5 linked regions of the Homo sapiens genome follow. The protein of the gene in region 1 interacts with the protein of each later gene in a biochemical or structural test. Each region holds a gene or a part of one and is shown in the gene's direction. Other genes may lie near its edges. The genes, in order: COPB1, GORAB, WBP2, TMED10 and COPG1.

What was found.
Region 2: the proteins of COPB1 (region 1) and GORAB form a complex in vitro, tested with the Homo sapiens proteins (one study listed by BioGRID).
Region 3: the proteins of COPB1 (region 1) and WBP2 form a complex in vitro, tested with the Homo sapiens proteins (one study listed by BioGRID).
Region 4: the proteins of COPB1 (region 1) and TMED10 form a complex in vitro, tested with the Homo sapiens proteins (one study listed by BioGRID).
Region 5: the proteins of COPB1 (region 1) and COPG1 form a complex in vitro, tested with the Homo sapiens proteins (one study listed by BioGRID).

What each region holds. Positions count from the first base shown.
Region 1 is NC_000011.10:14,492,023-14,498,416, reverse strand, and holds part of COPB1 (coatomer subunit beta), read left to right. Parts: intron 1-3,977; coding exon 3,978-4,207; intron 4,208-4,605; coding exon 4,606-4,775; intron 4,776-6,394. UniProt on the Homo sapiens protein: The coatomer is a cytosolic protein complex that binds to dilysine motifs and reversibly associates with Golgi non-clathrin-coated vesicles, which further mediate biosynthetic protein transport from the ER, via the Golgi up to the trans Golgi network.
Region 2 is NC_000001.11:170,540,651-170,547,044, forward strand, and holds part of GORAB (RAB6-interacting golgin), read left to right. Parts: intron 1-1,840; coding exon 1,841-1,942; intron 1,943-4,054; coding exon 4,055-4,195; coding exon of another isoform or gene 4,196-4,199; exon of another isoform or gene 4,200-5,141; intron 5,142-6,394.
Region 3 is NC_000017.11:75,847,040-75,853,433, reverse strand, and holds part of WBP2 (WW domain-binding protein 2), read left to right. Parts: intron 1-1,757; coding exon 1,758-1,866; intron 1,867-3,694; coding exon 3,695-3,830; intron 3,831-4,771; coding exon 4,772-4,864; intron 4,865-5,503; coding exon 5,504-5,638; intron 5,639-5,824; coding exon 5,825-5,947; intron 5,948-6,394. UniProt on the Homo sapiens protein: Acts as a transcriptional coactivator of estrogen and progesterone receptors (ESR1 and PGR) upon hormone activation. In presence of estrogen, binds to ESR1-responsive promoters. Synergizes with YAP1 to enhance PGR activity.
Region 4 is NC_000014.9:75,168,591-75,174,984, reverse strand, and holds part of TMED10 (transmembrane emp24 domain-containing protein 10 precursor), read left to right. Parts: intron 1-6,394. UniProt on the Homo sapiens protein: Cargo receptor involved in protein vesicular trafficking and quality control in the endoplasmic reticulum (ER) and Golgi.
Region 5 is NC_000003.12:129,251,288-129,257,681, forward strand, and holds part of COPG1 (coatomer subunit gamma-1), read left to right. Parts: intron 1-993; coding exon 994-1,074; intron 1,075-1,335; coding exon 1,336-1,407; intron 1,408-1,588; coding exon 1,589-1,668; intron 1,669-3,380; coding exon 3,381-3,456; intron 3,457-3,697; coding exon 3,698-3,790; intron 3,791-4,780; coding exon 4,781-4,867; intron 4,868-6,182; coding exon 6,183-6,340; intron 6,341-6,394. UniProt on the Homo sapiens protein: The coatomer is a cytosolic protein complex that binds to dilysine motifs and reversibly associates with Golgi non-clathrin-coated vesicles, which further mediate biosynthetic protein transport from the ER, via the Golgi up to the trans Golgi network.

The sequences.
Region 1 (6,394 bases):
CACTGGAATAAACATGTATTTTCCAGAAAAGTTTACCTTTTCATTTTTTATGCATTTTTGCAAATAAGAAAACAACTATATTTCTGAACTTTTTGTAATGTTTAATTTTTGGGGGTACACAGTAGATGTATATATTTATGGGGTACATGAAATGCTTTGATACAGGCATGCAATACATAATTATCACATGGAAAAATGGAGTATCCATCCCTTCAAGCATTTGTCTTCTGTGTGACAATCCAGTTACACTTTCAGTTATTTTTAAATGTCCAATTAAATTATTATTGACTGTAGTTACCCTGTGTGCTATCAAATATCGGGTCTAACTCATTTTTTCTGTACCCATTAACCATCTCCACTTCCCTACCACTACCCTTCCCACCTCTGATAACCATCCTTTTACTCTGTCTCCGTGAGTTTGTTTTGATTTTTAGCTTCCACAAATAAGTGAGAACATGTGAAGTTTGTCTTTCTATGCCTGACTTATTTCATGTAACATAATGACCTCCAGTTCCATCCATATTTTTGCAAATGACAAGATCTCATTCTTTTTTTATGGCTGAATAGTACTCCATTGTGTATATGTACCACATTTTCTTTATACATTTATCTGTTGGTGGACACTTAGGTTGCTTTCAAGTTTTGACTGTTGTAAACAGTGCTGCAACAAACATAGGAGTCCAGATATCTCTTTGATGTACTCATTTCCTTTCTTTTGGATATATACCCAGTAGTCGGATTGCTGAATCGTATGGTACCCCTGTTTTTAGTTTTTTGAGGACCCTCCAAACTGTTCTCCATAGTGGGTATACTAGTTTACATTCCCACCAACAGTGTACGAGGGTTCCCTTTTCTCCACATCCTCTCCAGCATTTGTTTTTGCTTGTCTTTTGGATAAAAGCCATTTTAACTGGGGTGAGATGATATCTCATTGTAGTTTTGATATGCATTTCTCTGATGATCAGTGATGTTGAGCACCTTTTCATATGCCTGTTTGCCAATTGTATGTCTTTGTGAAATGTCTGTTCAAATCTTTTGCCCATTTTTAAATCAGATTATGAGTTTTTTTTTTTCCTGTAGAGTTGTTTGAGCTCCTTACATATCTGGTTATTAATCCCTTGTGAGATAGGTAGTTAGCACATATTTTCTCCCATTCTGTGGGTTGTCTCATCACGTATGTCGATTGTTTCCTTTGCTGTGCGGAAGCTTTTTAACTTGATGTGATCCCATTTGTCCGTTTTTGCTTTGGTTGCCTGTGCCTGTGGGGTATTATTCAAGAAATTTTTGGCCAGACCAGCGTCCTGGAGATTTTTCCCAATATTTTCTTGTAGTAGTTTCATAGTTTAAAGTCTTAGATTTAAGCCTTTAATCCATTTTGATTTTATTTTTGTGTAAGTTGAGAGATGGGGGACAAGTTTCATTCTTCTGCACATAGTTTTCCAAGCACCATTTATTGAAGGGACTGTCTTTTCTCCAATGTATGTTCTTGGCACCTTTGTCAAAATGAGTTCACTGTAGGTGTATGGATTTGTTTCTTGGTTCTGTTATTTTCCATGGGTCTTTATGTCTGTTTTTATGCCAGTACCATGCTGTTTTGGTTACTGTAGCTATGTAGGATAATTTGATGTCAAGTAATGTGATTCCTTCAGTTTTGTTCTTTTTGCTTAGGATAGCTTTGGCTATTCTGGGTCTTTTGTGGTTCCATATAAATTTTAGGATTTTTTTTTTTTTTCTGTGAAGAATGTCATTGGTATTTTGATGGGAATTGCATTGACTCTAGATTGCTTTGGGTGGTATGGACATTTTAACAATACTGATTCTTCTAATCCATGATCATGGAATATCTTTCCATTTGTTGATGTTCTCTTCAATTTCTTTCATCAGTATTTATAGTTTTCATTGTAGAAATCTTTCATTTATTTGGTTAAATTAATTCCTAGGTATCTAATTTTATCTGTGGGTATTGTAAATGGGATTAGATTACTTCTTCAATTTCTTTTTCAGATTGTTCACTGTTGTCATATAGAAATGCTACTGATTTTTGTATGTTGATTTTGTGTCCTGGAACTTTACTAAATTTATCATATTTCTGAATTTTAAAAATGTATACCGTGTCTCCTTTTTGTGAGTGATTCTGTCAAGAAAAAAAAAATTTATAATTAATATGCTTTCCAAAGTAATGATTCTTGTTTAATTGAACTGCTAAAAATAAATACAACTTAAACTGATAAATATTGTTTAAACAGAGCAGAGTGAAAATTATGCTTCAAATATAGAAAGGATCTTTTAGAAGATAGTTTGCAGTTTGAAAAGAAACTTAATATTTTACTTGCCTATTCCCACTTCTTAATCAGCAGTAATGGAATACCTCCTGATTCTAGGTTACTTAATACTAGGTTTCTATTGAGGTCTATTTTTAGAGAAGGGAAAAGAAACCCAGTTTTATGATATTTAAAATGATACCATTATATACATAAGCCACATATATTTCCCTTTTTTCATGTTCATGTAGGATAGTTGAATGCAAAATAGTGAATACATTCATTAGTGTTTTTCCTCATAATTTAAAAATTTTCATTGTTAGATCCTCAGGATACCTAAGGTTATAGCTAGGAAGGTAAAGAATAAAATCTGCCCTTAGTTGGAACAATGCCCTAGTCTTAATTGAAGCTGCCTTAGCTACCTTCCTCCAACCAATAAATAAATACATACTCTCCAGTTTAATGTATATTTTTGCCATTAAGAAGAGTTGAGACTGGGCATGGTGGCTCATGCCTGTAATCCCAGCACTTTGGGAAGCTGAGGCAGGTGGATCACTTGACTTCAGGAGTTCGAGACCAGCGTGGCCAACATGGCGAAACCCCATCTCTAGTAAAAATACAAAAATTTTAAGTGGCTATTAAATGAAGAGTTCTGTGGGCCAGATGAACCACCGCATCTGACGCTCAGAACTCTGTTTCATAGCCGCTTAGCTCTAATCATTAGAAATGTATTTCTCATATTTAGGCCCAAATCTGGTTCCCGGTAACTACTACCCATTAGTTGTAGTTCTTTTCCTCATAATGGCCCTAAGGTTATTGAAGACTTGTAATCATTCTTTGTTCTCCCCTTCCCAAGATAATTCATTTATTTTGATGATCTAAACAGTTGTAGTACAGTGTGCTACTACATACTTCTCTGCCTTTGAGTTTTGGATCCAGAAGATTTTTAGTACTATAAATTCTTCAGTATGCAATGATAATGGTGTGAAATTTTAGATAGTTTTGCGTAAAATACTTTATGTTGCAGAGTTTTTAGGCTAAATAACAGTAAACTAGCATTTTATCTTTAATGTGTCATCCTTAATTCTAAATAATGACTACTAATCTAGAACATTTGAATTACCTCCCAGTTTTCCAGATGATATCTTAAGAAAGATTCTAAAGTTTTACAGCCTGCCTGCAGAACTATGATGAGATTTTAGAAATAATCCACTACTTTAGTTTTCAGCCTTTTTGAGTATGACGTTTCTCTTTCTAATGTTAAAAAAGTTACATATTTATCCTCCCATAATAGTAGTTTTAACTTTGTTAAAATGCACACAAATAGCTAAAAGCTGTTTTGAATTCAAAATCAATTAATAGTATGTATTTACATTTTGAAAAATAGCTATATGTGTTTTGAAACACGTTTACTTGGTATGACTGTAGATTCATGGAGCCTGCATTAACTCAATTGGTTAGGAACCAGAAATCTAATCCAGCGCCTTCATATTATATATAAAGAGTCTGATTTCCAGAGATAAATGACTTGAGCAAAGACAGATTATTTGGTGGAGAACCAGGTGGAGAACCTTGTCACTTGGGTTTGTACTTTTATTACCATTGCTGATACTGAAGTAAGAAGGTACATTTTATTTTGTTAATTGCTTTTAAATTTATGTGATGAATTTTCTTTTGAAATAATTGTGCTTTTTTTTAAAAAAATTTTTGATTCAGAAAAAGGAGATGTAAAGTCAAAGACTGAAGCTTTGAAGAAAGTAATCATTATGATTCTGAATGGTGAAAAACTTCCTGGACTTCTGATGACCATCATTCGTTTTGTGCTACCTCTTCAGGATCACACTATCAAGAAATTACTTCTGGTATTTTGGGAAATTGTTCCTAAAACAACTCCAGATGGGAGACTTTTACATGAGATGATCCTTGTATGTGATGCATACAGAAAGGTAAACCAAATCATAATTATTTCTGAATATTGCTTTGAATTTAAATGTAAAATTGGTAGAATGGGCTGTGTTTTAATTGTTAAAATTGAGTCTTTGATAAGATGTAAGTTGTAGAGATTTGGAATTGTAAAAGAGTTATTTTTAAAAGTTTTATTGTCACTTTTCAGACATTTTCTATGCATTTTATGTGTATATATTAATTAAAAAACAGTGACACACATATAAGACATTGATGAGATAGGTAAAAATTGCTTCAGTCAACAAGAATATGATGGAAATTGTCGGTAATCTAGGTTTTTTCTCAAACGTATTTTTTTTCCATTGGAAAGTTTTGCATTAAAATTTTCTTTTTGTAAAAAGCTGAAACTCAGCATTTCATATTTTAATTTTTATATCAGGATCTTCAACATCCTAATGAATTTATTCGAGGATCTACTCTTCGTTTTCTTTGCAAATTGAAAGAAGCAGAATTGCTAGAACCTTTAATGCCAGCTATTCGTGCATGTTTGGAGCATCGACACAGCTATGTTAGAAGAAATGCTGTTTTGGCCATCTATACCATCTATAGGTAAATAAAGATACTGCTTTGGCTTCATTCTGTGAGTACTGTTTAGTCTTTTAGACTAGTGGTTCCAAAGTGGTTGCTTGCAGACTGAATATAGCTTGAAGATATATTTTGTATGGCCAGCACTGTATTTTTTATTATGAACATTGAAAAGTCAAAAGATCTGGCAGCGCTGTTCCTAGCTTCCACAAGACAACATTCTGCTGAACTTGTATAACAGTAACCCCCTTTAAATAAGTTATATACTTTACAGTTTATGACAGTGCTTGTCATTCTCAACCGTATTACTCCAAGCCACTTTATATGTTCACTTGCTTAGCCTCTATAGGCTTTTAACTTTGGTCCTTGTTTTAGAATTCGTTTTGTGGAATGTCGGTCTTTTTACTGTCAGAAGCTTTGAGGAAGGAACTTTTTAAATGAGAAGGGCTACAGTTATAACTGAGTCCAATTCTTAGAAAGCTGAAGATTTTGAATTTTTATTTGTTTTTGTTTTGTTTTGAGATGGAGTTCCACTCTCGTTGCCCAGGCTGGAGCACAGTGGCGCGATCTCGGCTCACAACAACCTCCACCTCCCGGATTCAAGTGATTCTCCTGCCTCAGCCTCCCAAGTAGCTGGGATTACAGGCACCCACCACCACGCCCAGCCAATTTTTGTATTTTTAGTAGATATGGGGTTTCACCATGTTGGCCAGGCTGGTCTCGAACTCCTGACCTCAAGTGTTCCACTCGCCTTGGCCTCCCAAAGTGCTGGGATTGTAGGTGCAGGCTGCCACGCCCGGCTGAGATTTTGGATTTTTAAACCAATTTAAGGAACCAGTTAGATGAAGCTAGAATGCTCAGTTTTTACAGTCACAGGTATCAATTTATTAAGGACTACAATGTAATTTTTATAAGCATCTTTGTACTTTAGTAGATTTGTTGGTTAAGATATAATTTCATAGTTATCTTACTGTTAGATTTTATCCATTAAGGAAAGTGGTATTCTGGTTAATAATGTAGATGAGCCAGGCGTGGTGGCTCATGCCTGTAATCCCAGCACTTTGGGAGGCCGAGGCGGGCCGATAACCTGAGGTCGGGAGTTCGAGACCAGCCTGACCAACATGGAGAAACCCCGTCTCTACTAAAAATACAAAATTAGCTGGGCGTGGTGGCACATGCCTGTAGTCCTAGCTACTCAGGAGGCTGAAGCAGAAGAATTGCTCGAACCTGGGAGGCAGAGGTTGCGATGAACCGAGATCGCGCTATTGCACTCTAGCCTGGGCAACAAAACCAAAACTCCATCTCAAAAAATAATAATAAAAATAATAATAATAATAATAATGTAGGGTGAGTTCCTTTAATGTTACCATACAGACTACACAAATTTCAGAATTTAAACTATAGTGCACATAGAAAAATTAGGCCATTTATAGGACAATTGGAAATGTGAACACTATGTCTTGATATTAGGAAATTATTAATTTTGTGAGGTGTGATGATGAATAATTAGTTTTGCAAGTAAAGAGTCCTTGATTTTAGAGAAACCTACCAATATATTTACAGAAGAAAGGATACATTGCCTGTGATTTGCTTCAAAATAATATGGCAAGAGGTAAATTTGGCAAGGATATAGATGAAACAAA
Region 2 (6,394 bases), on another chromosome or scaffold:
GGAGACAAATAGGAGGTAAGTTTACATTGAGCTGGACAATTTGGATTGGATGTTATAGGGAAACTTATTCTTTTTTTGGATACTTGGAAGAATTTTCATAAAAGACCTGTAACCTCAAACCATTCACGTAAAGGAGAAATTTTGAGGTTTTAAGGAGGAGAAAGGAAAGCTGTGTCCTAGAGAATGTTCAGAGATGATACCTCATTTCTCTGGGAGAGGTGGCAAAGGATAAGCCAGAGAACAGTAGAGAATTAAAGAAATGAGGAAGGAGGACAGGCGTGGTGGCCCACACCTATAATCCCAGCACTTTGGGAGGCTGAGGCAGGCACATCACTTGAGGCCAAGAGTTGAAACCAGCTTGGCCAACATGGGGAAACCCTGTCTCTACCAAAAATACAAAAAAATTAGCTGGGCGTGGTGGTGCATGCCTGTAGTCCCAGCTACTTGGGAGACTGAGGCACAAGAATTGCTTGAACCTGGGAGGTGGACGTTGCAGTGAGCCAAGATCATGCCACTGCATTCCAGCCTGGGCAACAGAGCAAGATTCTGTCCCAAAAAAAAAAAAAAAAAAAAAAAGCAGAACTGAGGAAGGATCAGAAGCAGAAGCAGGGGATGAATAAGTAGAGAATTAAAGAAATGAGAAAGGATCGGAAGCAGGGGATGCCTTCCTTCCTAGCAAGTTCACTAATGCAGCAAGTTACCATGAAGCTCTCTGAGGGCTAAAGGCCGCAATCAAAATAAAGGTTAGAGAAATCCCAGGTGTCAATATTGTAGATCATATGCAAGAGAGTGCATAGTGAGCTGTGGAACTAAGGCGCCTGGTGAGGAGATGCCTGCAGTAGTAAAAGTGAGAAATGACCAGTCCCAGCACTAAGGTGGAAGGTGTAGAAATGGAGAGAGAAGGACAATTTTGGAAGGGGCTACTAGATTTGGGAATAGAGGTATGTGATATAATGGCTGTAAGAAGTGACAGTAATAGGAATAAATAGCTTTGCCAATACCTTGTTTAATTTGAGTTGACATCAAGCTCATGACTTTATGGGAAATTTTAATGTATTTATTTTAGAATTGGACAGATTGTAAGACAATACATGTTTTCACATCTTTGAATTTTTTTCTTTAGCCCAGCATTCCAGTCTTAGCTCTTAGTGTTTTACTTTGTTTAAAAATGTCCAAGTTGGGCTGGGCACAGTGGCTCACACCTGTAATCCCAGCACTTAGGGAGGCAGAGGCGGGAGGATAGCTTGAGCCTAGGAGTTCGAGACCTGACTGGGTAATATAGCGACACCCTGTTCTCCACAAAAAGGAAAAAAGAAAGACAAAAAAAAGTCTTAAGAGTTGGGAAAAAGTGAGCAAATTGAAAGAAAATATTAATATATGAAATAAACATTGGTTATTGTCTGAAACATGTTAAGGTGGTGGAGACTTTATAGAAAACTCTAAAAGGTATAAATAATATGACATCAGCTACAAACCAATTTTTATTAATCTCCATTCTGCATATAATACATAATTAACTTACACAAATTTCTTTGTACTCCTAAACACATGCCACAGTATTCTGGCTTCCAGTTTGTGGATTCCTAGATTATATATATAATGGATTTCAGAGGTCCAATTTATGTAAGCCTCTTTACTTTAGATCGTAGTCTTTGTTCCCATTAGAGCAAAATAATGAACTGCAGATGGGTTTCTTTTAAGAGGACTTTTGAAAGAACATATACATAAATCTTCTTGATTAAATTTTATACTTAGAGGACTGAGACTGGTAAGGTGTTGGATAGGGTAGCAGTTTCTTTTTCTTTCATAAACTCATTTTTATGCTTTTTTTGCCCCCTAGGCAAGAAAAATCTCGTTGGGAAGTCCTCCAACAAGAACAACGGCTAATGGAAGAGAAAAATAAACGTAAAAAAGCTCTTTTGGCTAAAGCTATTGCAGAAAGGTGAGGCACCTGAACCAGGAGAGGCTGTTTGTAACCTGTAACCAGTTGTGTCATGTGTTATATTTGTTTTCCCATGTCTCTTTTAATAAACTGATATTTTTTCTTCAACCATTACTTTTAAGACTAACTAAACAAATTATGCTTTATAAGTGATACTGAAATACTAGTTATAATTTATTAAAGAGAACTTTTTAAGCATAGAGCATATTAAATTTGTAAATATAGTTGCAGTTTTAAAGACCTTCATTAGTGCTCCCAGTTTTAACCATCTACACATTCATAAGGGAAGCAGTAAATAGCTATCAGTATATGTAAATTAGCAACAAATGCAAGTTTTAATTTTTATGTGGGGAGGCCTTAATCATTTGATGTGTAGAGGAATAAGGTTTTCTACATAAGTGACATACTCCCATGAATCTTAATTGGATTTCCTATGGGCATTTTTCTTAAATAATTTGCCCCGCCTCCACAAGTAGAAGATACATGATATAGTTTAACTTTTTATTGATGACTCAGGGTCATTATTATGAGCACTGTGTGAGATTCAATTTTTCTTTCACCTTCCAGTGTCTATCAGCAGCCCCTTCACATTTACTGCATTGTACCAGCCGCACACAACAACATTCCCATTGGAATCATTCTTCCCATCCCCCACCACTCTTGCTGAGTTTGTAGTTTCTGTCTAATCTCCTGTGGCCTTAGGAAACTAAACTTAGTCAATATATCCATGGTTGTGAATAGTGAAAACTAAATGCAAGGAAGTACATTTTCTTTTTAGACTTCCAGAAAAGTCTGTCAAACTGTTACTGCTTGAAGCTAGAGTATGTGTAGGGGCAGGAGAAGAGGGAAGAAGGTGATGGGTATAAGAGTAGTTCAGAATTTTGTCTGCCAGAGGAGTGAGTGTAGTTGAGAAATGGTGATTTTTCTTTTTCTACTACTGGTACACCTTGATCTTTCTTGAAGCATAGGAAATAATGCAACTCACTGAGTTACTATGTTTCAAAGGAAAAAACCAGCAGATAAAAGAGTAGTGCCCTCTTTTTTTTTTTTTTTGGTAAGTGATTATTTAAAAATAATTAAAGCATTTTAGTAGTCTTCAATTTCTAAGAGATGGGAAGGCTGTTTTCTGTGGTTTTACAAAAAGATGTACAGGCTCAGCAGTTCTTCTCATAAGTGCTTTTGATTTTAGACAGCACCAGTATAAACAGAAGTGTAAGGAAATACAACGTTTGAACTATTAATAAATGGACAATGAAGTACTTGACGTAAAAGAATCATACTGTTAAGTGAAGTTTTGTAGGCAGAAAGGAAGGGTAAATGCCTAAGAGTAGAAATCAAGAGAATGTGCTATGTAACATGGTGGATTTATGTGGGGATTTTTCTTCTTCCTTCACAATGTGTGTGAAAATTTGAAATGAGTGAAATCATGATTAAAGGGTTGCTTTTTTATTTGTTTGTTCCCTTTCTTAAGTATATATTGTACTTGGGAGAGGGGATTGAGAAATTATGAGGTTGGATGTGCTTTTAAATAAGGAAAATGAGTGTTTTGATGTTCAGCTCCATAAAGAATTTTCGTAACTAGTAGTTTTCCTAGAGAACAAGAATCAAAGCAATAAAAGTTTGGGGAAATGGGTCCCAAGAAAGTTAAAACTAAGTGGATGTTCTCAGATATATAAAGAGGTGTGGTTTAGTATAGACATCTATCTGTTCTTAATGTCAGGTAAGTATCAGACAAATGAAAATGGGCTTAGCAAGAGGAAGAATTAAAGACTAGAAATTTGGAAAGCTCTGTTGAATGTTTCAATGTAAAGGGAACACAGATATATTCTTTTAGTGTTTGTTCTCTTTACAGAATGAATATCAATCTAAAATGAACTATTTGCTGAGTTTTTTTAGACTTATTTGTTACTTTATGAAACATGCAAATATAAAATTTCAAAAACTCAAATGTTAACCAGCTTTTACTTTATTTCAATTTTTCTGATTTTTTTCTAACTTTTAAAATATAAATTATAAATGTATATGCAGTATCTTGCTTTTTCACTTACATTGTATATGGACACATGGTTTTAAAATGTTCTTATTTTCCCACTCACATACCTGATTTTCTAGATCCAAAAGAACTCAGGCAGAGACCATGAAACTAAAGCGGATCCAGAAGGAGTTGCAGGCTTTAGATGACATGGTGTCAGCTGACATTGGAATTCTCAGGAACCGGATTGATCAGGCCAGCTTAGACTATTCATACGCTCGGTGAGTTGGGGAAATTGAATCTGAACAAGGAGTATGATTTAATTAATGTTTATTGCCAGCTGTTCCAGGGGCTTTTATGTATATCATCATTGAAGCCTCAAAACAACCCCATTCAGTGCTGTATTTATTCTTCTTTTGTGCTAATTCAAGTGTCTCCTCTTCAGTGAAGTCTTCCTTAACTCTGCCCTACTAGTTAACCTTGTTCGTGTGCCATTAGAGCAGTTCTTGCATTATTTATTTACGTTTTAGTCTTTGCTGCGAAACCCTCAGCTATTTAATGTTTGGAAGTGTTTTTGCTCATCTTTCAGCATCTAGCAAAGTAAATATCTGAGTGGTTTCGCCAAAACTGTTACTCTGACACCAAGTCTGTGTTCTTTCCATTAAAATTTTTGATATCTGATATAGTCCTATAGGATTGAAGTCTAGTCCTCACTTTAGCTTTCATCAGAGTAAGAGGATCTAGTTTAGTTTTTAAAAGCTTATGAATATTTTAAGCATATCCTCTGTCTTGGAAATTTGAAATATTTTCTCTTTTTTTTTCCTTTCAATTATACTCTGTATGAAATGGTTTAATATATGTTTCCTTGGTTTCAACCATTGGCATTTTTTAAAAGAGAAAAAATACCATGGAGTATTTTTAAAATGAACTAACACATGTAATGAATTACATGGACTTTGCAGACAGATAAAAGGGCAAAAAAATATGTCCAATTTCAGGGTTTTCAGCCCTTTCAACATTGCTTTAATCATCCTGGTTTGTCTTTTTTCACAAGGGAATGCTGTGTTAATGACTCAGTTTTCTATCTTACTCTGTTACACTAGAAATGAATCAGAATGCCTCATTAGGCCAGGGTAAACCACAACATCAGAATGTTTATATAACAATTTATTAAAGCGGAAATGCTTGATTGTGGTTTTTAATAAACTGTTGAGTGTTTAAGAAAGAGTCTTGTGGTTGTCCTTGTGACTTTTGTAATTGTTGTTGGACCATATGCTATTAGACTTAGAGTTGTCTTTATTAATTAACTACTTAAAAGAATGCCATCAGTAGCTGATAACCAGAGGTTCCAGGTTTCCATTAATAAGGTCATTAAGGGAGATAACAGAGATTTTATTTAAGATTAAACTAAGCCTTGATTTGTAGCACATTTTATTCTCTGTAACATAAGTTTGCCAGAGGAACATTTTTATGCCTTTGTAGCCTTTTATATGAATAATTCATATTATAAGGTAGAAGTACTAGGTACCTCAGTTGAAATTTGAGGCCGGGCACGGTGGCTCACGCCTGTAATCTCAGCATTTTGGGAGGCCAAGGCAGGTGGATCACGAGGTCAGGAGTTCAAGACCATCCTGGCTAACACGGTGAAACTTCATCTGTACTAAAAATACAAAAAATTAGCTGGGCGTGGTGGTGGGCGCCTATAGTCCCAGCTACTCAGGAGGCTGAAGCAGGAGAATGGCGTGAACCTGGGAGGCGGATCTTGCAGTGAGCCAAGATTGCGCCACTGCACTCCAGCCTGGGCAACAGAGCGAGACTCCGTCTCAAAAAAAAAAAAGAAAGAAAAGTAATTTGATTTTAATTTTGTCCTAGTGGAAACTGGAGAAAGACGCTTTTTCATATTCAGTATTATATAAGAAATGTCATAGTTTTAGCCTTCTAAGAACCACAACAAAGAAGGTGGGATTACTAAAGGAAAAAACATCCTATAGTCTATAAGTATCCTAAATGAAATTTTAGTAAATTTTTAAATCTTTAGTAAGTTACAGATGACAGTTTCTCATGGTACTAATATTGATGTAGTTGAATGTAAGTAGATGTTGTGTGCCACTATTTTTGTTTTTATTTTTAGGTTTTTGAGACGGAGTATCACTCTTATTGCCCAGGCTGGAGTGCAGTGGTGCGATTTTGGCTCACTGCAACCTCCGCCTCCCAGATTCAAGCGATCCTCCTGCCTCAGCCTCCTGAGTAGCCCAACTATAGGTGCCCACCACCACACCTGGCTAATTTTTTGTATTTTTAATAGAGATGGGGTTTCACCATGTTGGCCAGGCTGGTCTCCAACTCTTGACCTCAGGTGATCCGCCTGCCTCAGCCTCCCAAAGTTCTGGGATTACAGGTGTGAGCCACCACGCCTGGCCATGTGCTGCTATTTTCAAAAGCCGAAGCTCTTGCGTTGAGTCAAAGGGAAACAAAGACTT
Region 3 (6,394 bases), on another chromosome or scaffold:
TTTTAGAAAGTGCTTCAGCCTGCTGTCTGAAAAAGTTGTATCTATAACAATTGAAGTGTTAAGTCCAGTGTCCAAAATTTGATAATTAGGCTGGGCATGGTGGCTCACGCCTGTAATCCCAGCACTTTGGGAGGCTGAGGTGGGTGGATCACTTGAGGTCAGGAGTTTGAAACCCGCCTGACCAACATGGTAAAACCTCGTCTCTACTAAACACAAAAAATTAGCCAGGCGTGGTGGCGCATGCCTGTAATCCCAGCTACTTGGAAGGCTGAGACAGGAGAATCGCTTGAACGCAGGAGGTGGAGGTTGCAGTGAGCTGAGATCACGCTATGTTGCACTGCAGCCTGGGCAACAAGAGTGAAACTCCGTCTCAAAAAAATAAAAAATTATAATTAAAATAGTGAACGTTACTCTTCAAGTCGTGAACTCCTTTGACAATGATGAAAGCTGTGGACTCTCCTCCCAGAAAAATGCACATATGACATACGTGATCATCTCAAGGGCTTCATGGACTTTCCTGCAAACCCCGCTTAAGAACCCAGGTTTAAAAGAACCCCGAAGGACGTCCTATTGTGATCTGTACAGTCATCTCTTAGACATGTTTATATTTTAGGCTTGAAAAACAAACCAGCAAAAACAGAACATCTATCACAAGGACTTAAAAGAAAATAGAAGAGTTGGCCGGGCGCAGTGGCTCACGCCTGTAATCCCTGCACTTTGGGAGGCCGAGGCAGGTGGATCACGAAGTCAGGAGATCGAGACCATCCTGGCTAACACGGTGAAACCCCGTCTCTACTAAAAATACAAAAAATTAGCCAGTCGTGGTGGCGGGCGCCTGTAGTCCCAGCTACTTGGGAGACTGAGGCAGGAGAATGGCATGAACCCAGGAGGCGGAGCTTGCAGTGAGCCGAGATCACGCCACTGCACGCCAGCCTGGGTGACAGAGTGAGACTCCGTCTCAAAAAAAAAAAAAAAAAATAAAGAAAATAGAAGAGTTAAGCCAGATTATCTAACTTGCTTGAGGGATGATGGCCTCTTCAGAGCCCTGTAGCTCTGCTACCATGTTGATCATTTGGGGGCTTTATAAGCGGGGTTTGGGAAATTTTACAGAACCCCCAACCTGCTCATTTCTTCCATGGCTATATTAATGGGTTTTTTTGTTGGTTTTTAGTTTTTTTGTAGAGATGAGGTCTCACCATGTTGCCCAGGCTGGTCTCAAACTCCTAGGCTCAAGCGATTCACCCGCCTCAGCCTCCCAAAGTGCTGGGATTACAGGTGTGGGCCACTGCGCCTGGCCCTATGAATGGCTTTATTTATTTATTTGTTTTTGAGACAGAGCTTCTCTCTTGTTGCCCAGGCTGGAGTTCAGTGGCGCCATCTCAGCTCACTGCAACCTCTGCCTCCTGGGTTCAAGCGATTCTCCCGCCTCAGCCTCCTGACTAGCTGGGATTACAGGTGCCCGCCACGGTGCCTGGCTAATTTTTTTGTATTTTTAGTAGAGATGGGGTTTCACCATGTTGGCCAGGCTGGTCTCAAACTCCTGACCAGGGGTCATCCGCTCGCCTCGGCCTCCCAAAGTGCTGGGATTACGGGCGTGAGCCACCGCGCCCAGCCCTATGAATAGTTTTAATGCCGCACTATTGAGAGGTTATGAGAGCTGACGTGCCGGGCAGCTGCTTGGGAGAAAGGCCCAGTGTCTGGGTGACGTCGCGTCTCCATACTGTCTCATTGAGGCTTTTCCTCTTTTCTCATCACAGCATCCTAATGTCCTATGATCACGTGGAACTCACATTCAATGACATGAAGAACGTGCCAGAAGCCTTCAAAGGGACCAAGAAAGGCACTGTCTACCTTACCCCTTACCGGGTGAGTTGCACAGCAGGGCAGTTGGTTGAGAGGCTTGTTGCTGTTGGAGGTGACGTGAGTCTTAGTCTCAGGTCTGCCTCAGCCTCATGAGTCAGGTGGCCTCTGAATCCTGGTGAGTGTTAGTGCTTCACTCTGCCTGTTTCTCTGTCACATGCTCCTGGATTCCAGAATCACCAGGCTCTTTGTGTAACTGACCTGACCACTGGGCAGTGAACCCATGTCAATTCCAGAGCCGCTGCTGCAAAATCTCTATAGAGTTGGATGCAGCCGCTGGCATGACTTGGGCCTGGAGGCCAGACTATTATTATTAATATTTTGTTTTCTGTGAGAGTAGCCCATGAAGCCCTGTGTGTATCCAGAGTGAGAAATCCAGTAAACAGGGTACAGTTGCATGGCACGGCCTCCGGACTGGGCAGAGAGCCCGGTACCACCCCGCAGAATGACAAATGCCAGGCTGCAGAATGGGCCCTGCCTGAGAGTTACCCACGTGGACTCTGAGAGGTTGAGAAATACAAATGGATGTTCTTGGAAAAGGATTGCTGCCTGTGGCTACTCAAGATTTAGACTCAAAGACAGGCTGGTGCGGAGGCTCATGCCTGTAATCCCAGCACTCTGGGAGGCCAAGGTAGGCAGGCCACTTGAACTCAGGAGTTCGAGACCAGCCTGGGCAACATGGCAAAACCCCATCTCTACAAAAAATACAAAAATTAGCTGGGTGTGGTGGCACATGCCTCTAGTCTCAGCTACCCGAGAGGTAAGGTGGAGAATAACTGGAGCCTGGAGAGGTTGAGGCTGCAGTGAGCTGGGATCATGCCACTGGATTCTAGCCTGGGCAACAGAGTGAGACCCTGCCTAAAAAAAAAAGACTTAGACTCAAAGACAGCTGGAAGAAGAGGAGCACATTTTCAAGTTTTAATCTCCATGACTTCACAAAGACAGGAGAGTCTCAAAACCCCATCTCTGGAGGCTCAACTTGGCACCTTCAGTCACAGATAAAAGTCGTGGGTTTAAAACCCTGGCTGGGGCCGGGTGCGGTGGCTCATGCCTGTAATCCCAGCACTTTGGGAGGCCGAGGCGGGCGGATCATGAGGTCAGGAGATCGAGACCATCCTGGCTAACACGGTGAAACCCCATCTCTCCTAAAACTACAAAAAATTAGCCGGGCATGGTGGCGGGCACCTGTAGTCCCAGCTACTCAGGAGGCTGAGGCAGGAGAATGGCGTGAACCCGGGAGGCGGAGCTTGCAGCGAGCCAAGATCGCGCCACTGCACTCCAGCCCAGGCAACAGAGTAAGACTCCATCTCAAAAAAAAAAAAAGAAAAGAAAAGAAAAAATAAAACCCAAGGGTTTCTCCAGGCACAGGCTCCAGGAGAGCTCTTGTTGCTGTTTATAGCCCCCCTCAATGGGAGCTAGCGACCTACTGCACCATCATTCTCAGTTCTGGAGAGTTCAGGCTGGAGACCCCCCTCTTTCAGGAACCCATCCCTGCCTTGCCTCTGCCTGTCCTTCCCTAGCTTCGTAGGCCCCTTCACTTAGGCAACACTGCCACCACCCCACCACGTCAGTGACAAAGCAGTCTGCCCTGCTCATAGATACTATCTGTGACCAGCACGTTTTTCTCCCGTGTGCGTGAGCTTGGCCTCTCCAGGCTGCGGTGAGCCCTTTCCCTTTCCAAAGCTCTCTCCAGGAGTGTCTGGCACAGAGAGAGCCATGGGGCTGCTGGACCCTGGCACTGGGAGAGGATTCGTCACTCCCAGGAAGCAGGCGGGAAGCATGGCAGCGTGGGCTGTGCTTCTAGTACTGATGGCCTCACCCTCTCTCCCTGCAGGTCATCTTTCTGTCCAAGGGCAAGGATGCCATGCAGTCCTTCATGATGCCATTTTATCTCATGAAAGACTGTGAGATCAAGCAGCCCGTATTTGGTGCAAACTACATCAAGGGAACAGTGAAGGCGGAAGCGGGAGGTAGGTGATGGGAACTCAGGGACACGCATGGGGCCTGCAGGGAGGTGTCCTGGGAACCTCTGACTGCCGCCGTGGGGGCGTCCCCTTCAGACCCTTATCGCCCTAGCCATGACCTCTTCCCAGCTCTGGGCTGCCAGCTGGTGGGGTTTGATTGCCAAGAGGTGGGGAAAATGCTGGCATGAAAGACAGCAGCTCAGATCAGCTTTTCAGAGCGTGAAGTCTGCAGAAGCCTGCGGACTGAGTCAAGATGCTTAGTGCAACTTGGCGAGCGCATACAAATTTTAGACTCAGGAAGGAGCTGCATCAGGTTCTTGAGAGGGGCCTTTTCATGAGAGCCAGGAAGAGGCAGCTGCCTCTGGGAAGCCAGAGTCACCCTGCTTTGGGGCTGGCTTTTTGGCAGGCCCCAGAGACCTCTGCATTGAACTTGCCTTCCCCTTGACACCCAGCCAGGCCCGCCCTTGCTATTGAGACACTCTTGGTCCCCCTTTGGGCAGAAGCCAGGCTAGAGGGGCCGGAGTCTGTCCTTGGGCCCCCTTAGGACGAGAGGTCTGCTCTGAATTTTAAGGTCGGCTGTTGCTGAGTGGGCTTGTTCCTGTGAAGCTGCCGAGTGCTTGACTGGGGGCGGAGAGAAACCTTGATGTGGCCTTGGCACCCGTGTACATATTGGGCCAAGGGTGGGAGGACAGGCTTGTTCCAGGAAGGAGAGGCCATTGTTCCAAAGGGGGAAGCGAGTACAGCAGGGCCAGGCCAGGCTGCAGTGCTGGCTCCTATGCAGGCAGCAGGCTGGAAACCATGGCACCAGGAAGTCCCCATCACAGTGCAGGCCCAGCCCCCGCAGGCCTCCCGGGCGTTGGATGAAGTCCTGGAGAGGAAAACAGCCATCTCTTTGGGCATAAGTTTTCTTTTCCTGTGCTGTTTATTCACTGTCCTTCCCCTTTCAGGTGGCTGGGAAGGCTCTGCTTCCTACAAGTTGACTTTCACGGCAGGGGGCGCCATTGAGTTCGGACAGCGGATGCTCCAGGTGGCATCTCAAGGTATCCAGGCTCCGAAGATTAGGGGCTAAAGACACACTAAACATGTAGGGGTTTGGTATGAGTTTGCTTCCTTTTCGTTTTGCTTTTTCAAGAACTCAAGAGGTAAGTGTTTGGGCACCAGGCTGACCAGGCCTAGGAGTTGGGAAGGAAAGCTGTCATTGGCATCAGCTCTGTCCTGTACCTCAGAGACTGCGTTTCCCTGCCTGGGGCAGGTGGATGACGTTTTGACAAAGCTGTTTGGACTCAAGGACACTTTACTATGGCCTCATAAAACAAACACTAAACCAACCATTCGACTGCGGTTCCGCAGCCATTGAAAATGACCGAGGGATGGGCCAGCAGACATCCTCCGCCAGCTCACTCCTACCCCAGCCCTGAGCCTCCCTCCCGGCCTCTGTCCACCCTCCAGCCTTGCCCTTGACCTCCCTTGCCTTCCCCTGGCTCTGACCTCTCCCGTCCTCTCTCATCCCTGACCAAGGTGGCCCCCCGAGTATGGGTGGAGGGTGGAGTGGGATGGACAGAGGATGTCTGCGGGGCACATTCCTGAGACCCAGTAGCTCCCATCTGCAGGCAGCGGGGCTGCCCTCTCCCCGCCCCAAGGCAGGCCACGCTCATTTCTCTTTCCCCTTGTACTCGTAGCCTCCAGAGGTGAAGTCCCCAGTGGAGCCTATGGCTACTCTTACATGCCCAGCGGGGCCTATGTCTATCCCCCGCCAGTCGCCAATGGAATGTACCCCTGCCCTCCTGGCTACCCCTATCCACCGCCCCCACCTGGTGAGTGTGTCCTTTGCTGCCCCCACTCCCCTCATGAGCCCACCTACCCAGGCTCCCCCCAGGCCAGGGAGACTTTATTCCTTGAGCTGCTTCAGGACCAACGAAGGAGCTGGAGAGGCCCCCCTCACCCGGGAGGGGGCCGCAGCCGGGTGCTCACCATGTCCTTGTTACTCTCTCACCGAGCAGAGTTCTATCCAGGACCCCCCATGATGGACGGGGCCATGGGATACGTGCAGCCCCCACCACCGCCCTACCCTGGGCCCATGGAACCTCCGGTCAGCGGCCCCGATGTCCCCTCCACTCCTGCAGGTGAGGGCCCTTGGGTGCTGGCAGCCCTTCGGGACCAGCCCTCTCCTCCCCGATGTCGCACAGAGAGCCTCAGAATGGCCAGAGACTGCTGAGAGCCGCAGATGATGGATGACCCCTGGACTACCCCAGGGGCCCAGCAGGGCTGTGGCCTGGTGGAGCGGAGCTAGATTCTGGCCCCACCCCCATCCCTTAGCTATCCATGTGCCCTGGGCGGGGAAGGTCACCCTGTGTGCCTCTCGATCCTCTCATCTACACTCAGCTGGTCGGTCACAGTGGCACCTGGGGCATTGGCTCAAGGATTAGATGAGGTGAGACATGCGATGGGCCTGGAAAGGACCGTGCCAGCGCGTGGCATGTGCTCAGGAAACCTCACCTGCTGCTCTCATTGGTGGAACTGGACCCCCAGCACCAGCTGCCCCGAGCCATGGGGGCCCGGGGTCTCTTAGC
Region 4 (6,394 bases), on another chromosome or scaffold:
CACTGCAGCCTCTGCCTCCCGGTTTCAAGCAATTCTCCTGCCTCAGCCTTCCGAGTAGCTAGGACTACAGGCGCCAGCCACCACACCCAGCTAATTTTTGTATTTTAGTAGAGATGACGGTTCACCATGTTGGCCAGGATGGTCTTGATCTCTTGACCTCGTGATCTGCCCGCCTCGGCCTCCCAAAGTGCTGGGATTACAGCCGTAAGCCACCGCGCCTGGCCTCGTTTTTACTTTTTAAAAGGGTTTCAGATATAATAAGACCATAACTTATGTTAAAGTAGTGGAACCCAGTAGTGTGGTAATACATGTAATTTATTTCTACTTTATTTGGGAGAGACAAACTATTTTCAGGGCAATTAATCTGTGACCCATCATTTTATTATTCTGTTTGGGTATCAAACTCTCTACCCAGGAAAATAGTGATGGCATGATTTTAGAAGCTTAGATATAGTGTTTCCGGGGTGGGAGATCATGCTTCCAACTCTTCAGAGGATGTTCATGGACTCAGGGAATTTCAGCAATGAAAGAGACCTTGCTCTCATCTCGTGTTGCTGTCTGATTTGTTCTTATATTTTAAAGCCCTTCAGTGGCTCACTATTGCTTATTGATAGTTTAAATTTCTCAACATGCTTTGTTGTGCTCTTCATGATCTGTTTCTGAGCTATACGTGTGGTCACTTCCCACTTTGCATTCTACATGGAGCCACCCTGGACAGTACCCTGAACTCACTTATTTTCTGAACTGTTTTTGTTTATGCCTTGACCTACTTACTAGACTGTTAGTATCCTCAGGGTAGGAACTATTTTCAGGTTCATCTTTTCTAGAATGCCAAGCATGTTACCTTGCTTCTAGTAAGTACTCTATAAATAACAGGAACTGTAGTTTAGCATGGCCTTATGGGAATTACATTGAATTTAGGGCTGCTGAAGGCACCTCAACAGCAGGACTTTAGGCCGGGCTTGGTGGGTCATGCCTGTAACCCTAACTCTTTGGGAGGCCGAGGCGGGTGGATCACCTGAGGTCAGGAGTTCAAGACCAGCCTCAGCAACATGCTAAAATCCAGTCTCTACTAAAAATACAAAAATTAGCTGGGCATGGTGGCGTGTGCCTGTAATCCCAGCTACCCGGGAGGCTGAGGCAGGAGAATCACTAGAACCTGGGAGGCAGTGGCTGCAGTGAGCTGACACCGTGCCACTGCACTCCAGCCTGGGCAACAGAACAAGACTCGGTCTCAAAACAAAACAAAACAAAGCAAAACAAAAACCAGCAGGACTTTGTGCACACACCCTAGCACTTTACTATCACTCAGTTGCTCTCCTGTGTCTGCTCTGTTCTTTTGCTACTAACCAGCTTAATGGAACCACAAGGGTCCTAAACCCAAATGCCAAATAGGTAATATCATTGAATAAATTGGACCAGGTATTTTAAAAAAAAAAGCAGTGATGATAAATGGGAGAATAATTGGACGTAGTAGAAACTGTTAATTAGGGGTGACCAATACTTAGTTCTTGATGAGACTTGCCATGCAAGCATGTGGGCCTTTTTGCCACATCTGATTTTTCCCTTCCCCTCCCCTCCCCTCTTCCTTCCCTTCCTTCCTTTCTTCCTCCCTCTCTCCCTCCCTCCCTCCAGTGGCACCATCACAGCTCACTGCAGCCTTGACCTCCTCAGGGCCCAGGTGATCCTCCTACTTCAGGCTCCTGAGTAGCTGGGATTACAGGCACATGCCACCATATCCGGCTAGTTTTCATATTTGTTTGTAGAAATGGAGTTTCGCCATGTTACCCAGGCTGGTCTCGAACTCCTGGGCTCAAGTGATCCGCCCATCTCGGCCTCCCAAAGTGCTCGGATTACAGGCATGAGCCATTGCACCTAGCCCACATCTGATTTTTCAAATGAAATAGGAACACCAGATTTTGATGTGAAAGCTCCAGACTTTTAAATTTCATCAGCCAGGTTTCAGCACTGCAGAGCTTGGGAGCTCCCGGCCCACCCGAGGGCCATGGATCTCATTGTCCTCACCACTGCTTTGCCACTCCATTTTCCTCAATAAAATGGTTTGGCCCCCTAAAAATTAAAAAAAAAAAATTTCACCAGCCAATTCAGATTGGTTCGGGCATTGATTTGTTTTCAGTGTTATAGGGAATAGTATAGTGAGTTCACCTTTCTACCCATTACTCATATTCACCAATTATCAGGATCTTTCCACACGTGTCATCTTAACTGCTTCTGCCATATCATTTCATGCTAAATTGTATTAAAGTAAATCCCAGATGTCATGTATTTCATTCCTGCCTACTTCAGCATGCATCTCTTTAAAAATATAAACCACAATGTTACGTGGCTAATCACGCCTCACAAAATGAACAATGATGGCCAGGCGCGGTGGCTCATGCCTGTAATCCCAGCACTTTGGGAGGCCGAGGTGGGCGAATCACGAGGTCAGGAGTTCGAGACCAGCCTGACCAACACGGTGAAACCCCGTCTCTACTAAAAATTTAAAAAAAAATTAGCTGGGCGTGGTGGCACACATCTGTAATCCCAGCTGCTCTAGGCTGAGGCAGGAGAATCTCTTGAACCTGGGAGGCGGAAGTTGCAGTGAAGTATGATTGTGCCACTGCACTCCTACCTGGGCTACAGAGTGAGACTCTGTCTCCAAAAAAAAAAAAAGAACAATGATTCCTTGATACCCAGTCCATATAGTATGATCCCACTTGTCTCAAAAATATCTTTTGAAAGTTAATTTGTTGTCTCTCTCAAGTGTCTAATCTAGAGCAGTCTCCTCTTCCTCTCACCTCCTTTTTTATCCTTGCAATTGAATTGTTGGAGTCAATTGCTCTTAAAAGAATGTACAGCATTTCGGAGTTGTCTTTTGCTTCCTAGAGGTGTCTTTTAACCAGTTCTTCCACTATATTTTTTGTAAAAGGAATCAGCTGTAAAGATGTAACCAGAGGTTCAGCAAACCACCATGGCACACGTATACCTATGTAACAAACCTGCACGTTCTGCACATGTACCCCTCCAGAACTTAAAGTGTAAAAAAAAAAAAAAAGATGTAACCAGATTCAGGTTTAATCTTTCTGTCGAGGGTGTCACTGCAGGAACACACAGTACTTTTTGTGCCCCTTATTGCTGCTGCTAAGATTGATAAGTGGATTAAGGTGTGTCTTAGTGTCCTATTGCTGCTGTAACAAATTACCACAGATTTATGGCCTAAAACATCAGGGATTTGTCTTAATCGTTCTGAAGGTCAGAAGTCCTAAAATCAGGGTTTTGGCAGAGCCATGTTTCTTCTGGAGACTTTTTGGGAGTGGGGTGGGGATCAGTTTTCTTGCCCTTTCTAGCTTCTAGAAGCCACTTGTATTCTTTGGCTCATATCTCCTTCCTCCATCTTTAAAGCCAGGCTGGGCGCGGTGGCTCTCGTCTGTAATCCCAACGCTTTGGGAGGCCAAGGCGGGCAAATCACTGAAGGTTAGGAGTTTGAGACCAGCCTGGCCAACATGGTGAAACCCCGTCTTCACCAAACATACAAAAATTAGCTGGGCATGGTGGTGCACACCTGTAGTCCCAGCTACTCAGGAGACTGAGGCAGGGGAATCGCTTGAACCTGGGAGGCGGAGATTGTAGTGAGCCGAGATCGTGCCACGGCACTCCAGCCTGGGTGACAGAGCGAGACTTTGTCTCAAAAAAAAAAAAAAAATTAAAGCCAGTAGCATAGTATCTTTAACTCTCTCCCTTTCCTTCCCTTTTCCATCCTCTGCTTTGTTCCTCACCACCCCTTCTTCCTCTCTTCCTCCCTCCTTCCCCGGCTATCATCATCTCATCTCATTCTCTTACTCACCTGCCTCCCTCGTTCCCTTATAAGGACCCTTGTGATAATCTTCTCCACCTCAAGACCCTTAATCTGATTTAATCACATCTGCACAATCCCTTTTGCCATGTAAGATAACACATTCGTGGGTTCTAGGGATTAGGATGTGGACATCTTTGTGTGTGGGAGGCATTTTTTTCTCTACCCGGGTGGTAATAGCCCAAAGCCTTCATTGTAAAGTTTCCCATTAACCTTTCACTTAGGAATCCACTGATGACTACTGTGTGCATTTATTATGTCATTAAGGTTGTGAAATGATGACTTTCTAATTCCGTTACTCCTTCCATATTTATTAGCTGAAATTATTCTTAAGGAATTAATATCATCTGATTATCCTAAAATTTATCATTCACATTGGTAGGATAAATGCAGAATTTATTTCTTCTAATTGATAATTGTCAGAGTAAGGAATTGTTGCCCTTGTCATTTTCAGTGTTGTCCAAGAGTTTTTGGGTTTTTTTTTAAAGTATTTTACTGAACTCTTTTTAATTGTTGGCTTCAACTTTTAGAATCATTGTGTTTTAGGCAGTTGTTTCCATTCTTTATGCCCAATTTGTCCCTTTGGTTCCTTCATATTGGCTCCTGTATTTTTTCAACATAATCCTGTTAGGTTTTGATAGCATCCTTGTTTTCTGGCACAACAAAGTGTTCTAGGCTTATCTTGTATATGTCTATCCTCTGACCTCAGAACAACTGTTTCTCTAAGGAATTCTAGTTCCTTTTTGTGGGGATTGGTATTTGGAGACCACAAGCTAGGTGTCATTTTTGAAAATGTAATATACCATGCAAGCCACAGAACACATTTGTGAGCAGATGCAGCCCATAGCGGCTTTCAGTCTTTTTCATGGTGTCCGTTCACTTAGTTCCACTTTTTCTTTTTTTGTTGAGATGGAGTCTCGCTTTCACCCAGGCTGCAGTGCGGTGGTGCAATCTTGGCTCACTGCAGGCTCTGCTCCCCGGGGTTCACACCATTCTCCTGCCTCAGCCTCCCAAGTAGCTGGGACTACAGGCGCCCGCCACCACGCCCGGCTAATTTTTTGTATTTTTTGTATTTTTTGTATTTCACCGTGTTAGCCAGGATGGTCTCAATCCCCTGACCTCATGATCCGCCCGCCTCTGCCTCCCAAAGTGCTGGGATTACAGGCATGAGCCACCACGCCCGGCCGTTCCACTTTTTCTTATATTTTGACGACTGCTTCAAGGATTCTCCCTATGCATCATTTTAGCTTCTGGAGTGCAACTCCTAAGTGCCAGAGCTCCTTTTCATATGGTAGGCCACATTCTAGGTCTCAGTTCAGCCAATGGATTGTCTTGTCTTTGGTCATATTTCCACCCCTGCTTTAGGCAGCTGTGGTTTGATTTGAGGTAGGAGGAGAACTGGAGACTGGTGCAGAACCTGGCCAGCTGAGCTTAGCATTTGGTGGTTGTGCTGAATGAGGCAGTCTTTTTTTTGAGATGGAGTTGCGCTCTTTTTGCCCAGGCTGGAGTGCAATGGCATGATCTCGGCTCACTGCAACCTCTGCCTCCCAGGTTCAAGCAATTCTCCTGCCTCAGCCTCCCAAGTAGCTGGGATTATAGGCGCGTACCACTACTCCCGGCTAATTTTTGTATTTTTAGTAGAGACGGGGTTTCACAATATTGTCCAGGTTGGTCTCAAACTCCTGACCTCAGGTGATCCGCCCGTCTCCCAAAGTGCTGGGATTACAGGCGTGAGCCACTGTGCCTAGCCTGAGGCAGTCTTTCTTATAAGGGTCTCTGTGAATATAGTGCCTTGGTTAATCTGACTGATTCACCTTCTTTCTGTCTAGGAACATCTCAGTATCCAGTGAATGCACCTATGTTATCATATACCACTCTGTGTTGCAGTTGTGTATTTGCCCATCTCCTGGGATAAACTATAAGCTGCTTGAACAGAGACTAGGTTTCATTCATCATTGCAATGCTTGTCTAAAATAAGGCCTGGCACATAGTAGGACCTTATCCTAAGGAATTAGTGAACAGACGAGCAAGCACTGTCTTTGCCTCATCTCTGATCTTTCCCTCTTCCATTCTCTTTATTTGCTTCCTCCCACTCTGACTCTAGCTATACTGAACACCTTACAGTTCTTTGAATATAATGTTCTCTTTACCTGGATCAATGTTTGACTTTCTGTGTCCCCTATGTGTCCCATTGGCTTATAACTTCTTTTTTCCCCCTCACCAAAAGTTGTATGAAAAGATACTGTAGTACCATTACATCCTGTTTTACATGGCACTTTTCATGTAGTGTAGTGTTTACTTTGTGAACTCTTTAATGTCTTACTCATCTTTGTGTCTTTAGTTTAACGTACACATTGTTGTATAACTGAGTTAAACATCTTAGTCTTCTTGAGAAGCCTTGTGGTATGGTAGAGACTAGATCTGAAGTAAGATAGATTTGGTTCAGATCCCAGCAGCTCCACCATTTAAAGGTTATGTGGGTCTTGCAGGGATTACTTAACCCTTCTTCTCTGGTCCTGTTTCTGTAATATGGGAATCGTA
Region 5 (6,394 bases), on another chromosome or scaffold:
TAAAACTATCACCTAAGCTAGACTGTGGCCATTATGCAGGTAGAGATTTTGCATGACTTGTTTATTTTTATTATATATATTTTTTATATATATATATATATGTATTTTTTTTTAGAAGGCGTCTCACTCTGTTGCTCAGGCTGGAGTGCAGTGGCACGATCTCGGCTCAACTGCAACCTCTGCCTCCTGGGTTCAAGCAATTTTTCTGTCTCAGCCTCCCAAGTAGCCGGGACTACAGGCGCACGCCACTATGCCTGGCTGATTTTTATATTTTTAGTAGAGATGAGGTTTCACGATGTTGGCCAGGCAGGAGAATGGTGTGAATCCTGACCTCTTGATCCTCCCGCCTCGGCCTCCCAAAGTGCTGGGATTATAAGCGTGAGCCACCGCGCCCGGCCACTTCTCTTTTTTTTTTTGAGATGGAGACTTGCTGGTGTCAGCCTGGGGTGGAGTGCAATGGCATGATCTTGGCTTGCTGCAACCTCCGCCTCCTGGGTTCCAGCAATTCTCCTGCCTCGGCCTCCCGAGTAGCTGAGATTACAGGTGCCCACCACCATGCCTGGCTAAGTTTTGTATTTTTAGTACAGACGGGGTTTCACCATGTTGGCCAGGCTGGTCTCGAACTGACCTCAGGTGATCCACCCGCCTCGGCCTCCCAAAGTGCTAGGATTACAGGTGTGAGCTACTGCGTCCAGCCGCTTCTTTCTTTATTGTTGTCGTTCATTGTTTCTGTTTCCAGTTAGCAGATGGTTGCTAAGTATCTGCTAGTCAATAGGTTAGCACATCCCTAACTAATATTTACACGAGAGTCTAAGAATAATTAGTAGTTGATTAAAGAAAAACAAACCCTTTCCTTATGAAAATAAGCTTGTTGCATACCCAGAAAGCCCTGTTTAGACAAGTCAGTTTACCCTGAGACTTCTCAGACATTGAATATACTTGAAGGGAAATGAACTAGGCTAGAAGGTAACATCTTTGGTCATTTCTTCTTAGGCCCGTGTATTTAATGAAACTCCCATCAACCCTCGGAAATGTGCCCACATCCTCACCAAGATTCTTTATCTCATAAACCAGGTAACAGGGTGAAGCTTGCGGGTAGGGAGAATGGTGCTGGGGGATTGGAGGGGAGTGGACAAATCATGATCACTCTTAGGCTATTGGACAGCCTCTGTGTGGCTGTAGACAACAGCTCAGCTCTGGGTCCCCTCAGCATCCAAGTCTCATATGTTGCCCTTGAGCCTCTTTAGGGTCTGGGGATCTGGTGTGGGCTGATCCTGAAAGAACTGCTGTCTGACCCTCTGTCCCAAGCTGAGACTTCTTTCTTGATTAACACAGGGGGAGCACCTGGGGACCACGGAAGCGACCGAGGCCTTCTTTGCCATGACCAAGCTCTTTCAGTCCAATGATGTAAGTGCCTCAACCCAGCTTTCCTTGAGAGGTGGCAGCTGTAACAAGGTGGTGGGAGGGCCAAAGAGAGCTGGCCCCACCAGTCAGTGTGGGCTGCCTTTGTGGAGACAGGAGGTATCTTCTCCCAACTCTGGCCCTTGGTGAGCCCGGGCTGATAGGGCTTTTCCCACCTATCTCCCAGCCCACACTCCGTCGGATGTGCTACTTGACCATCAAGGAGATGTCTTGCATTGCAGAGGATGTCATCATTGTCACCAGCAGGCAAGTCATGGGGTTGTGGGTGGCTCTTCTGATGGGTTCCATTGACAGACCATTTTTTTCTTGTGTGTACCAGACAGTGAGACTTGGTTGCATATTGCCAGCTGCCCACCCCGTGGCAGCTTCCCTGTTACCACTGCCCACCCCATGGCAGCCTCCAGGTGTGCTGTTTCTATTTTAATTCTCTGACCTTGACTTGGACACAAATGCTTCCTTTTCTTGATTTCTCTTAGTCAACCAAACCAGCTTAGAACTTTCCCAAAGACTTTCTTGAGTATAAAGAGAGAACACAAGAAAAATAAACAAGAGAGTACAAGCGGTATACTGCTTACTAAGTGACTGGTGTCTGCTTTAAGCTAAGCAATTCAGGGACAGATGTGACTAAAGTGTAATCACTGCCCTTAAGAACTGGGGCTCAGTTCTCTTATTTCTTCCTGCCACAGTTTAAGGTTGTGGGGGTCATACATTGATTTGTAGGTTCAGTTAGAAAATATTGTCTGTCAGTCCCTGTGTGTAGCTCTGGGGATATAGCAACAAAAAAGATAGACATGGCCTCTGTAGCCCCAGAATTTACAGAGAAATAACCAGGCATCAGGCCATTAAGGTAGGGTGTAATATAGTTTATCACGGAAGTATTATGGGCTATGAGAGCAGACCAGAAGAGCATCCAGCTTGATTAGAATTACGAAAGTCCTCCCAGAGGAATGATCTAAGTGGAGTCCTGAAGGATGAGTAAGAAATAGTAGGACAGGACAGGCGCAGTGGCTCATGCCTGTAATCCCAGCACTGTATCCACAATGTAATCCACAGACTGCGATGGGTGGATCACTTGAGGTCAGGAGTTTGAGACCATCCTGGCCAACATGGTGAAACCCCGTTTCTACTAAAAATACAAAAATTAGCCAGGTGTGGTGGCGCACACCTATAATCCCAGCTACTGGGGAGGCTGAGGCAGGAGAATTGCTTGAACTGGGGAGGTGGAGGTTGCAGTGAGCTGAGATCATGCCACTTACACTCCAGCCTGGGTGACAGAACGAGACTGCGTCTCAAAAAAAAAAAAAAAAAGCCAGGAGTGATGGCTCATGCCTGTAATCCCAGCAGTTTGGGAGGCCGAGGCGGGTGGATCACAAGGTCGGGAGTTCAAGACCAGCCTGGCCAACATAGTGAAACCCCCTCTCTACTAAAAATACAAAAATTAGCCGGGTATGGTGGCATGTGCCTGTAGTCCCAGCTGCTGGGGAGGCTGAGGCAGTAGAGCTTGAGCTCGGGATGTAGAGGTTGCAATGAGCCAAGATCGCACCCCATTGCGCTCCAGCCTGGGCGACAAAGCGAGACTCTGTCTCAAAAAAAAAAAGAGTAGGACAGAGTGGAGGTGAGGGGTGAGGAATGCTACAGGCTGAGGAAACAGCACATGCAAAGGCTGGAGAGGAGTGAGCATAGCCAGTTAGGGAAGTTCAAGGAGTTACATTCAGGTCACTGGCAGTAGGAAGCTATGGAAACTTTTTAGCAAAAGCAGGGGGATGACCTGTTTGGTTTTGAGTCTTATGAAACTCCCTCCAGCAGCTGTGTGGAGTTAGGCTTGGAGGGGCAGGAATAGAGGGAGAGCACTGGTTAGGAGGCTCGTGTAGTAATCTGGGCAAGGGTGGTGTTGGGAGCTGGAGAGGAGTAAACAGGCCCAGGCTCTCTGCATGCTGACAATGCCTTCTTCCCTGCAGCCTAACAAAAGACATGACTGGGAAAGAAGACAACTACCGGGGCCCGGCCGTGCGAGCCCTCTGCCAGATCACTGATGTGAGTCGTGCCGGTTCCTCCCTGCTTCCTGGCCTCTTGATTGAGGCCTCGGCATCATCTTTTGCATTCTTTGGGGTGTCCCCTATCACTGAGCCAGGTGATGTGGGGTGGAGGCAGTGTGCAGGAGCACATGAGAAACGCTTACTTCCTCCTCATACTCATCTCTGCCCCCATTCCTGCACTCCTGAGAGCTGCCAAGGACTGACTGGATCTCCTTCCACCCTGCTCCTTTTGCCCACAGAGCACCATGCTGCAGGCTATTGAGCGCTACATGAAACAAGCCATTGTGGACAAGGTGCCCAGTGTCTCCAGCTCTGCCCTCGTGTCTTCCTTGGTGTGTAGTTGCTGCTGGAGCCCTGCTGGGGGTGGGGTAGAAAATTGAAGAAAATTTAAGAGTCACATTCCAGTAGGAAAAAAGAAAGTGTTTCTTTCTTTCTTTTTTTTTTTTTGATTGAGACGGAGTCTCACTCTGTCACCCAGGCTAGAGTGCAGCGCCACGATCTCGGCTCACTGCAACCTCTGCCGCCGGGGTTCAAGTGATTTTCTTGCCTCAGCCTCTTGAGTAGCTGGGATTACAGGCGTCTGCCACTGTGCCCAGCTAATTTTTGTGTTTTTAGTAGAGACAGGGTTTCATCATCTTGGCCAGGCTGGTCTTGAACTACAGACCTCATGATCTACCCGCCTCGGCCTCCCAAAGTGCTGGGATTGCAGGCGTGAGCCACTGTGCCTGGCCTCTCTTTCTTCTTTTTTTTTTTTTGAGACAGAGTCTCACTCTGTTGCCCAGGCTGGAGTGCAATGGCTCGATTTCAGCTCACTGCAACCTCTGCCTCCCTGGCTCAAGCGATTCACATGCCTCAGCCACCTGAGTAGCTGAGATTGCAGGTGTGCACCACCACGCCCAACTGATTTTTGTATTTTTGGTAGAGACGTAGTTTCACCATGTTGGTCAGGCTGGTCTTGAGCTCCTGACTTCAAGTGATCCACCCGCCTCGGCCTCCCAAAGTGCTGGGATTACAAAGCGTGAGCCACCGCACCTGGCCAAAATAAAGTATTTCTGTATCTGTAAGCCTGAGAGTCCCACCCTTCTCAGTGAAGACAGCCAAGAAACTCTGGGGTGATTGAAGAGAGTCGTGGGTGGATGGTGTTGACCCATGCCTTGGGGAGGGACATTGAGGGTGGGAGCATCCTGAGTTTGTCCATGGTCTCTGAGGACCAGGACAGTGGCGAGCCCCTGAGCTGTGTCTGAGGGAAGACCAGAACTGGGCCCAGAATGTGTGATGGGGACACTTCCTACCTGCCCCTTAATGTGTCCTGTTGCCCACAGCACCTGCTGAAGTGCAGCTTTGACGTGGTCAAGCGCTGGGTGAATGAGGCTCAGGAGGCAGCATCCAGTGATAACATCATGGTCCAGGTGAGATGTGAGCAAGGGAGTGATATTTAAAACACTCAGGCAGGTGGTAAGGCACTGGCCAGTTGGCATGGACACTTGCCACCGAGATCCTTGTGACCCCTGGCCATAGCAGGCTTTAATCCTTTCGTCATTGGATCATGGGAGGAATTAGGAGGTCCTGGGTTAGAGAATCCAGGGTACCACTTGGGGCGCTTGGGTTACAGACTGCTTACCAGCTGGTGCTGAAATATTCAAGTATTTTGATAACCAGCTGAGTATTGTTTTGGAGCATATGATGTGGCAAACTTGGCCAAGGCAGGCAGAGGGCCGCCTAAATTTAGGCCTTTGCCAGCCTGGCTTTGTTATGATGTGTGGAATTATCTTGATGAGGCTTTCATCCACTTTACTCTTCCTCAGTGACCTAGGACAGCCGTTCCTTTTATCTCTCTGGCTCTTGGTTTCCTTGTCTGTAAAATACGAATGAAGGTTACTGCCTCACAAAGCAGCAAGGACGAGCTGAGATCATGCATGTAACATGTGACCCATCTGGGTCATGAGTGCCTATCGGCGCTCCCTGTGTGTTTATGTATTCCCTTTATCTCTCATCTGTCTTCTCATCCTTTGCACGATTCTTGTCTTCAGGGCCAGCTGTGGCCCCTCAAAACACTTATGAGGGCCAGATAAGCTTCCCACATAGAAGGCTTCCACAGCTGCCATATCTTTGCCCCCAAATGTCGCTCCTTTAGGAAACAAAAGAGAGTATCGAGGACAGGAAATAACTATGAGACCTCACATCTTTAGAAAGGGAGTCTCTGGGCTTCTGGCCCTCCAGGCCTAGCTTTGTCAGTACCAGCCAGGAGTCTTTGGGCAAGTCAGCAAAGATTAAACTGTCTACCTTCAGGGTTGTTGTGGGTAATGCAAGATTTCATGGCTAAGGTGTCCCACACAGTGACTTACAAAACATGACAATGCTCAGGGTCTGGCTCCCACCTTCTCTCTCTCATTGTCTGATTGAAAGCACCAGGTCTCCCACATTGCTTTCATCTTTGTGCTGTTTGTTGTCCCTTTCCATATCTGTATTTATGCTACCTGTTAGGGCTCTTGCCGAAGCAGGGGTGGGAACAAGAACCACAGATATACTTCTGTGGTTTGTGAAGCATTGTGTGGAGGGCTGTGTACACAGAGTACCTGGGGCAGTTGTCACAGCCACTCTGTGTGGTAGCTGCTACTGTGCCCATCTTAGAAATGAGAAGGCTGAAGGACCCACCCAGGGCCACACAGCCAGTATACCCAAAAGTCATACATTTGTACTCTGTTGCTGTCTCCTGTCCTATAGTACCACGCACTAGGGCTCCTGTACCATGTGCGTAAGAATGACCGCCTAGCCGTCAATAAGATGATCAGCAAGGTCACACGGCATGGCCTTAAGTCTCCCTTTGCCTACTGCATGATGATCCGGGTGGCCAGCAAGCAGCTGGAAGAGGAGGATGGCAGGTAACGGCTCTCATCTCTCACCAGCTAGATGATGCCTCACTCATCCTACCATGC